Linked DNA regions of Homo sapiens: region 2 is linked to region 1. The links come from fine-mapping of genetic effects on gene expression. A gene starts in region 1. The other region holds a variant in brackets. All regions are shown on one strand. Distances are from middle to middle. Region 1 holds the start of STRAP (serine/threonine kinase receptor associated protein). Region 2 overlaps EPS8 (EGFR pathway substrate 8, signaling adaptor).

Evidence for each region. PIP is the estimated chance that this variant, and not a neighbour inherited with it, causes the effect.
Region 2: its variant is the best candidate, but not a certain one, in a credible set for the expression of STRAP in whole blood (INTERVAL, PIP 0.66).

The regions. Positions count from the first base shown.
Region 1 is chr12:15,880,650-15,885,051 of GRCh38, forward strand. STRAP (serine/threonine kinase receptor associated protein) reads left to right here and starts at 1,738. Exons shown (of 10, transcript NM_007178.4): 1 at 1,738-2,170; 2 at 2,892-3,027. The coding sequence starts at 2,059. LOC102724146 (a long non-coding RNA gene) reads right to left here and starts at 1,649. Exons shown (of 6, transcript XR_007063230.1): 1 at 1,131-1,649; 2 at 458-550. RefSeq lists enhancers at 1,156-1,385, 1,696-1,815.
Region 2 is chr12:15,717,533-15,721,934 of GRCh38, forward strand. The region is part of intron 1 of EPS8 (EGFR pathway substrate 8, signaling adaptor); the gene reads right to left. Among named protein-coding and RNA genes, the nearest start is that of EPS8, 70 kb to the right of the region's middle. The variant C/T (reference allele first, on the strand shown) is at 2,080.

The DNA.
Region 1 (4,402 bases):
TAACCTGTCTTCTAATATTAAATTGACCTTGAAGCCTACCCAATTGGTCATAATACACAATACTCTTAGAACTCAGAATCCAAATGAGCAGGAAATAATACATTCTTTAGAGCCAAGTATGTACCATAACTTACCAATTATATTCTTATCTACACACAATGAGCAATAAATGAACATGTATCAGTATCTGACCAGTTGTGTCATTTTGAGTGGGTCTTTTATTTACCTCCATCAGTAATGCAACAATCTATTTAATCAGTAAACAGTCATGCTGAGTATTCACTAAATGCCATTCACTTTTCTGGCACTAGAGTACAAATGACAAAGCCATAACCATTGCCATTAAGGAGTTCATAAATGTGTGAGTGGTGCGTATGTGTGAGACAAAAGGGAGAGGATGGCACAAAGGAGGAGTCGAACAAGATAAAATGAAAAACATATATAGTAAGTGCTTTACCGTAAGTGAATGAACGAGAGTACTAAGGAAAAAGAATGGAGACGTATTTCAAGTTCTCACGTTGTTTGACTCGAATCTTGTAGACGGTGTTTGCTGCAAAAAGATGAAGAAAACATTCACAGACATTTATGTTGATTACATATTTATTGCTATGTGCCCAGACGTTTTGACCTTGGGGATAAAGTAGCAAAGAAAACACAAAAATCTCTGTTGTATTGGGTTTACATTCTATCAATAAAGATACAACTTGCCCAGAGAAAAGCCCTCTCCTGGTTAGGAAACAGTATCAACAATTAACAGCTCTGGTGGTTTCACAGAGCCACAGTGGGCTGCCTGCTGCAGACAATATCAGAGTTTGTTTATATTTAAATATTATTTTAATATTTCTATTTTTGTCCATGTATTATAATGCACATCTATGTAATTTGCAAATCATCACTCATATATACATCATATCAAAAGGTGTAAAAGTTTTTGATAGAATTCAGCATTCATTCGCTTATAAAATGAGTGAAGGCTCACTTTACGGATGAGAGTATTTCATCAAAAAAATTGGGGATCTACGACTCTAGAGTTCTCCGAAGTCCACCAAGGAAAAAGTAACTTGAATTTAATCGCATTTAAAACTATATAGTATCCACTCCTAAAACATTAGCAACATAGGAAAACTTACACAGCGGAAGAAATGACTGGGGATTTTTTTTTTTTTTTTAATACATGGTCTCGCTCTGTTGCCCAGGCTGGAGTGCGGTGGCGCGAGCACCGCTTACTGCGGTGTCGACCTCTCGGGCTCGAGTTATCCTCCCACCTCAGCCTTCCAAGTAGGTGGGACCACAGGCACCACCACTCCAAGCCCGTATATGGTTTTTAAATAAGACAAATTGCAAAAAACGTTGCCAGACAGCGTTCGCTGGTTTGGGCCGTCACTGGGTATGGCTCGTGTCCGTCTAGATATTCAGAGGCCGAGCACAGTCCTCAGTAGGGCTGCTCGGCAGGTACACAGCTGACGCTGGTCCTTGGACTTATGGGAGTGGGAACAACTTTCAACTCGGCCGCGGACCAGGAAGGCGTTCTGACCCGCTAGAGCTCGGGGACAGGGACCCCATCCCGGTGCCTAGAGCGTCTCCCTTAGTCGGCGTGGGCCAGCGCCAGTTACCTCACGAGCACTGAACTAGCGCCTGCGCCCTTCTATACTTCTCGCTCTTTCTTCAAGTCACTTCTACCCGGCGAGCCCGCCCTCCCGCCAATCGTCATTTCCGGCGGGTGCTCTGCGTCATTTACGTCGTCACTTCCTGCCGATGCCGGTGTGGACGCTGTGAATCGTGGCTGGCCCGGTTCTCCGCTTCTCCCCATCCCCTACTTTCCTCCCTCCCTCCCTTTCCCTCCCTCGTCGACTGTTGCTTGCTGGTCGCAGACTCCCTGACCCCTCCCTCACCCCTCCCTAACCTCGGTGCCACCGGATTGCCCTTCTTTTCCTGTTGCCCAGCCCAGCCCTAGTGTCAGGGCGGGGGCCTGGAGCAGCCCGAGGCACTGCAGCAGAAGAGAGAAAAGACAACGACGACCCTCAGCTCGCCAGTCCGGTCGCTGGCTTCGCCGCCGCCATGGCAATGAGACAGACGCCGCTCACCTGCTCTGGCCACACGCGACCCGTGGTTGATTTGGCCTTCAGTGGCATCACGCCTTATGGGTATTTCTTAATCAGCGCTTGCAAAGGTGAGCAAGGCCGCAATCCTGGTCCTCGACGGCTGGGACTGGGCTGAAAGGGATCGGGACCCGCACGCTCCAGTGCCGAAGCGGTGGTGTGGTGAGGGGGGAGGGGGCGATATTAACATCTGAGATGAGAGCCAACACTGGTCCGGTGGAGAAAGGAGTGTGTTAGGGAATCCGCAGCTGGAGCCGAGAGGACGCTTTTGTAGAAACTATTACCTCCAACTAAGACCTCTCTCCTTATTTTATTTTTATTGCTATTTTTGAAGGAGCTGGTCAGCATTTGCCTAGACTCTCGGGACAACACGGTAAATAGCTTTCAAGGATTTGGGGAAAGGAGAAATTAGGCCAGGCCGTGCAATACCTTACAAAGACGTTCGCTCTTGTCTCACTGGATATTCCTTTGTGGTATTAGCCTCATTTTTCAAATGGGAAACTGAGATTCAGGCTAAGATGTCTGTCCAAAATAAGACTAAAATCTAGATTGTTTTGACGCAGATCAGTATTCCCAGCCAATTACAGATGCTTTTCAGAGAGAATGATCTGTTCAGCTCTTCAGTTAATTTATTACTGCACATTCCTTAGTGCCTTCAGTGGGTGGTGGTAGTTAAATAGCTGAAACAATTTTTCCACTTTGTCATTGAACATCATTGTATATTTACATTTGAATCTTAGACTTTAAGTAATCTGAACTTATAAATTACATGTTTTAAAAAATATTTTCTAGATGGTAAACCTATGCTACGCCAGGGAGATACAGGAGACTGGATTGGAACATTTTTGGGTCATAAAGGTGCTGTTTGGGGTGCAACACTGAATAAGGATGCCACCAAAGCAGCTACAGCAGCTGCAGATTTCACAGCGTAAGTGTAGCCAAGATGGCTAACTTTGGTGTTCTCTGTAGCTTGTGTCCTGAAATAATCAAAAACTTCAGTGTCAGATATTCATAAAATTCTGACTCACTGGCTGCCATACAGAACGCATGTTTGATCCCACCAAAATTCCATCGTGGTCCATCGTGGTCCTGTGTGCTTCTTTGTCTTCAGTGGTTCTCAAAATTTTCAGAGGCCTAAATGACTTATTCCGTATATTTTGATTGAGACTCAGGAATCTGCATTAACAAACGCACCAGATAATGAATGTTGATCTCCTTTACGAATGCTGCTCTGTGTGTACTCCTTAGTGATATCCTACATTGATGGCCCTAGGTTTTTATTTCAATCCCGGTTTTTGTTAACTGGCTTTAGGCATCATTAAAACTCATTGTGTCAAAAACAAACAAACAAAAAAACAACAAAAAAACAAAACTCAGCTGCTCGTCATTTCCTAAGTTTTTAAAGGTTGAAATCTAAAGCATTCTTGATTTTCCCTTATATCTAGATTATCATCATCTTTTTTGATTCTGCCAGCGGGATGTCTCCTGACTCCAATGTTCCTTCATGTAGTAACTGTGGCTGCCTTAGTTCAGGATCATTTTTAACTTTCAGTAGTTTCTTTTCCTCCTATTCATTTTCCATATTGTTGCCAGTTGTCTTCCTAAAAACATACTTGATCATGTCACTTCTCTACTAATGATCTTCCTGTCTTCCCTTTGCCATTTTAGTAGTTCATGACCTTTGATGTACATTAGAATATCTGGAGAGCTTTTCAAATATTCAAATGGTATGAGTCCCAGAAATTCGGATTTTTAAAACTTTTTTTTTTTTTTACTTTTTTACTATATATTTATATTTTATACTTTTTACTACATTTAAAAATATTTTTTAATACTTTTTACTATACAGACAGTATCTAGCTATGTTGTCCAGGCTGTCTTAAACTCTTGGCCTCCATGCCTCAGCCTCTCAAAGAGCTGGGGTTACGGGGGTGAACTACTGTGCCTGGTACAGAAATTCTGGTTTGATTGGTCTGGGGATGGAGTACTGGTCATACTGATTATTGGTGTTTTTTTATTTTTCTTTCTTCCTTTTCTTTCCTGATGTGCAGTCATAGAATTGCTGACCTAAAGGACACATTTCAATTGTTGGCCCTTTACAGTTTGCTTCATCCTAGTTCATCAGCATCATCCTCTGCCATTGCACACCATAAACCTACAATCTAATTATACTAATCTTATTGTTGCCAGAATATACCTTACCTGTTCTGACTTTTGGCGGTTAATTATGTTATTAAACTGACTTGCAGTGGCCCTCGTTGCCTTTTTGGGAATGTATCATATTTTATAAATCTTGTTATCTC
Region 2 (4,402 bases), 160 kb before region 1:
GCCGAGATCGTGCCATTGCACTCCAGCCTGGGTGACAGCACGAGACTCCATCTCAAAAAAAAAGAAAGAAAGAAAGAAAAAAGAAATGAAATGGACACTTCTTGGCATGAATAAATATAAATAGCAGGACCAATATTATACGTTCTTTCCAGAAGTTATTTAGAAGAGTGAGACCATACTTAAATTAAGTGTATAGATGGCATTAGTAGTCTAAGTTAGGAAAATATTGATTTGAGAAAAATGAACCGCAAAATTATGTAACAGGGAATATAAATGAACAAAATGGTAGTTTTGCCTTAAATTGGCAATGTTTAGGAATGCATTAAGGGAAACACCACACAAACTTATTTGATTATGGATTTTAAATGTCACTTTCAACCTAGAAATCACTGTACAGCTCCAATAAGACATGATCTTATTTGGCAATTTCAGTTAAAAAGACAGCAAGAAACAAAAAAATTGGTGGAAAAAGTGATTTCTCATTTCCTTTCATGTCCTATAACTAAAGATTAGATGTAAAGTGTTAAGACCTCAGCACAAGGAAACCAAAAGCTTGTGTTTGTGCACCAAGTCTGCCACTTAATAGCTCTATAACCTTTGGTGAGTAACTTAACCTCTCTCAGCCTCTGCTTCCTCACCTGTAAAATGAGACCAATGAGACCAATTTGTACAGTCTCATTCAGATCCAATACCCCAGAACATTTTCCTAATTCAAATTTAAAAGGAGAAAACCTATTTAATTAGATTTTGGCTAAAATACAGTAACTAGCAGTTTTACACTTTTCAACATAAAATTTCTGAAAAAAGAAATAACCAAATAGTCACAAAACCTAATGACGAATAAGGAAAAATTATGAGTCACTATGAGGACATCTGCAAATTCACCTTACAAATTATTGAATAACAATATTTATAGAGCCTCCCATTTCTGCTGAAAATTTCCCATTTAAATACAGACTCTGCTGAAACACAATAGGTACAAAGAATTGAAGCAGGGAAAATGAAAGCTTTTGGCATGTAGTATCAATATTTCCCATAATTATGAAGATTTTACTTAGACTTTCCTCATTTCACCTGGCTCAAATGGAACTCCCATCCCCTGTAATTAGCTTGATGAGTGCATATCAAGAGTCTCATATTCTACCAAATCAGCTAGCTGGACATGTTGGTGAATGTATATCAAAAGAATTGTCTAGAAGGTCCTTGTAAAACGCATTTTTAAACCTACAATGTCCTCAAAGCCTGTCCTTTCCACAAAAAGTTAAACTCTAAACAAAACGACAGGACTACTTCAGCTTATTAAAATCATGAGTGCTTCCGGGTTCTTAAGTGCCATTTAGAGAAAAAAAAAGGCATTTCTTACAGAAGTATCAATCCTTTCTGGAGTATTTTTACCTTAACTCTGAAATACTGTCAGGAAATTATCACATTAGCTAGGTAGCAAGACTTAACCTCTCCTATCTATAATCATGTGCTATATAGCAATGGGAAGGAAGCGAGGAAGGAAGGAAGAGAAAGGGGCAAATCAGTAAATACAAAAAAGGAACTGTGAATGCTGATAAGGTGTCCTCTTATCAAAAAATCAGGGGAAATGCCCAAGTTTAATTCCAAAGCATGTACCTATTGAAGCACTGCAAAACATCATCATATATATGTATATATAAACATACATATATATATATATACACACATACATACATACTTACATATAAGTTAATTACTGAGCAAGCAGCCTTGACAAGTCAGGAAGCATTACAATACACAGAATAAAAATGCCTGTTTTCTGAGTAGCAGTTTAGAAAAAGCTGTGCAAACAGTTGTTAAAATGATATAGCTTATGTCATCCTTTAAAAGTAAAACCTGCAATTAAATTTGCACATCAAATGATCCTTGAAGCTTGTATGTTACCAATAAATAGGAGTGATAGAAAGGGCTTGAAATCAGACAAGCCGTGTCAGTGACACACAACAGAAATGCAGTCATATAAAGAGAAGATATTACAGCAACACATGATCTGAAGCTGAATGCCACAGTGATACACTCACATTAAATTGCCAGAGGACATATCAGTTTTTAAAA[C/T]GGTTTAATTTCTTTGAATATCATTGGACTAGAGTTTGCCCAGGTGGCAGAATTTAGCTGGGGCCTTTGGCTGAAAATTGTTAGTGCAGTGAATGTTTACCCTGGGTGGGCAAAATATTAAGGATCCCTTTCAAGTTTATTTTCAATTGATAAAATGCTTATTCTCCTAACCAAGTCTTAATCTTTATTTAGATTATAGTTTAAGACCTCTTAATTGTAATTCTAAAAATGGTATCTAATCCCCTTCTATTTTTGACATGGGGCTATGAAAAACAGATTAAACCAACTACGTCAAGAGGTGGTATGTTATGGGCAAAAAGCCATGGATTTGAAATCTAAACCTTAATTATTTTCCTGGCTATACAATTTAGTGTTATGTGACAAACAAATCATCAGTATAGGCAGTAGAATGTAGTTGTAAAGAATTCAGGTTCATGTACAAAACAGACTCATATCCCAACTCCATACTTTAAGGCTATACAACTTTGGCCACATTACTAAATCTGTTTGCTTATCTATAAAATGAAAATAATAGTATCTTCTTCACATATTATTTTCAAATAATATATGAAAAGAGTATAGCATAGTACCTGATTAATTATAAGTAATAAATGGTAGATTTAAAAAATCACATCTGAGTTTTCTAAGTAATTCAAATATTTCCCCCTTGCTAGATAACACTTGGGATCAGATGAGGTAACATAAATTGTAACCTCTTTTTTTAAGAGATAAGGTCTTCCTATGTTGCCTAGGCTACACTTGAACCCCTGGGCTACAGCAATCCTTCTGCCTCAGCCTCCTGAGTAGCTGGGATTACAGATGTGCCATCATGCCCAACAATAACTCTTCTTTACTCCAGGGTGACTAAGAACATAATGGTCACACTACTGATGTAAGCAAAGCATACTGTAAAAGAGGTCCATTGACAGTCACATTCTGCTAAGTGTTACAAATAATCATACACTTAGTGATCAACAAATGGGGTGTTCCTTAAATCTGGTCGTGTTATTTACTTAGAACGCTTCAGTGTTGTCTGAATGCAGTCATAGTAAAATCAAAGCCTCTTACTGTCACCTAAAAGCCCTTTTAGGATCTGTCCCCTGCCTCACTTTTCAGTTTTGTCTCTTTCCTTCTTCTATGACCTCCTTGCTCACTTTGCCCCAGCTGTGGACTCCCTGGGCATGTTGCTCCCTCTGCCTGAAACTCAAGTTCTCCATTTCTTAGCAATTCTCATCCTTTAAGCCTGTTTATCTACCACTTGCTCAGAGAAGCACACCCAGATATTTAAAGTGCTGTATGAGATTATCTATCCCCAAACCTAACCCACCCTCTTGCATTAATCTCTGTGTGCTTTTATTTTTTATTTTCTCCCTACCACTTACTACAGTTGGTGATGTTGCATGTCATTTATTTTTGCCCTGTCTGTCCCATTAGAATACATACTTCTTGAGGGCAAGGGCCAGCCTTTGTTTACCACTGTATCCCCAGCACTTAGTACAATAGTTGGCACATAATAGGTGAAGGCAATCAAAAATATGTCCACATATACTCAGAGTGAAAAGAAAGCAAGAAAATACTATAACACAAATACCACAACAGAGTAACTCAAACTTTTCCCATTCACAATCTGTAGGAAACCCACCCATGTCTGTAATATACAGTCATATGCCATTCCCCACTCACAAAAATAAACCTAACACACACCAAATAGATTTTTTAATTGACAAATAAAACCAAATAGATTTTTTTAACTCCAGTAGCTCATCTCCAAACTGTTTTCCTAGATGTAATGAGGGAAAGAAAGCAATACTGGAAAAACTACATAATACTCAGCTAAAAGAACGAGGTTTGTGGGGCTCAACAAAAAAGTAATCGTCTGGAAGCAGCCGGTTCTGTGAACCAATAGATAAAAAATTTCATCTCCAAACCCCCAGGCAGCTCTCCAGTTAGAAGGCACACTGCTCTACATCTCAGCCCATCAGTTTTCCTTCTTTGGAATAGTACATTTTATCCTCCATTTCTTGTGAAAGACAACAATCTTGTTTGCCTTTGTCTTGCGCATCAAGTTAAAAGGATTTTCCTGAAAACTTAAAAGTAATAAAAGCACACTTTACTACAACAAATAGAAATAAGAAGTGCCTACAGGATTTCTAGTGTTTCATTCAGCACCAAATATCAGACTTTTTAAAATTTTTATTATATATTATAAATATTATTTCTGATCATAAAAGTAAATCCATGGCAGAAAGTTAGAACATACAAAACTATTTTAAGAACAAAAATCATGAGTCATCCTGCTAGCCAGAGACAAATGCTTTCACAT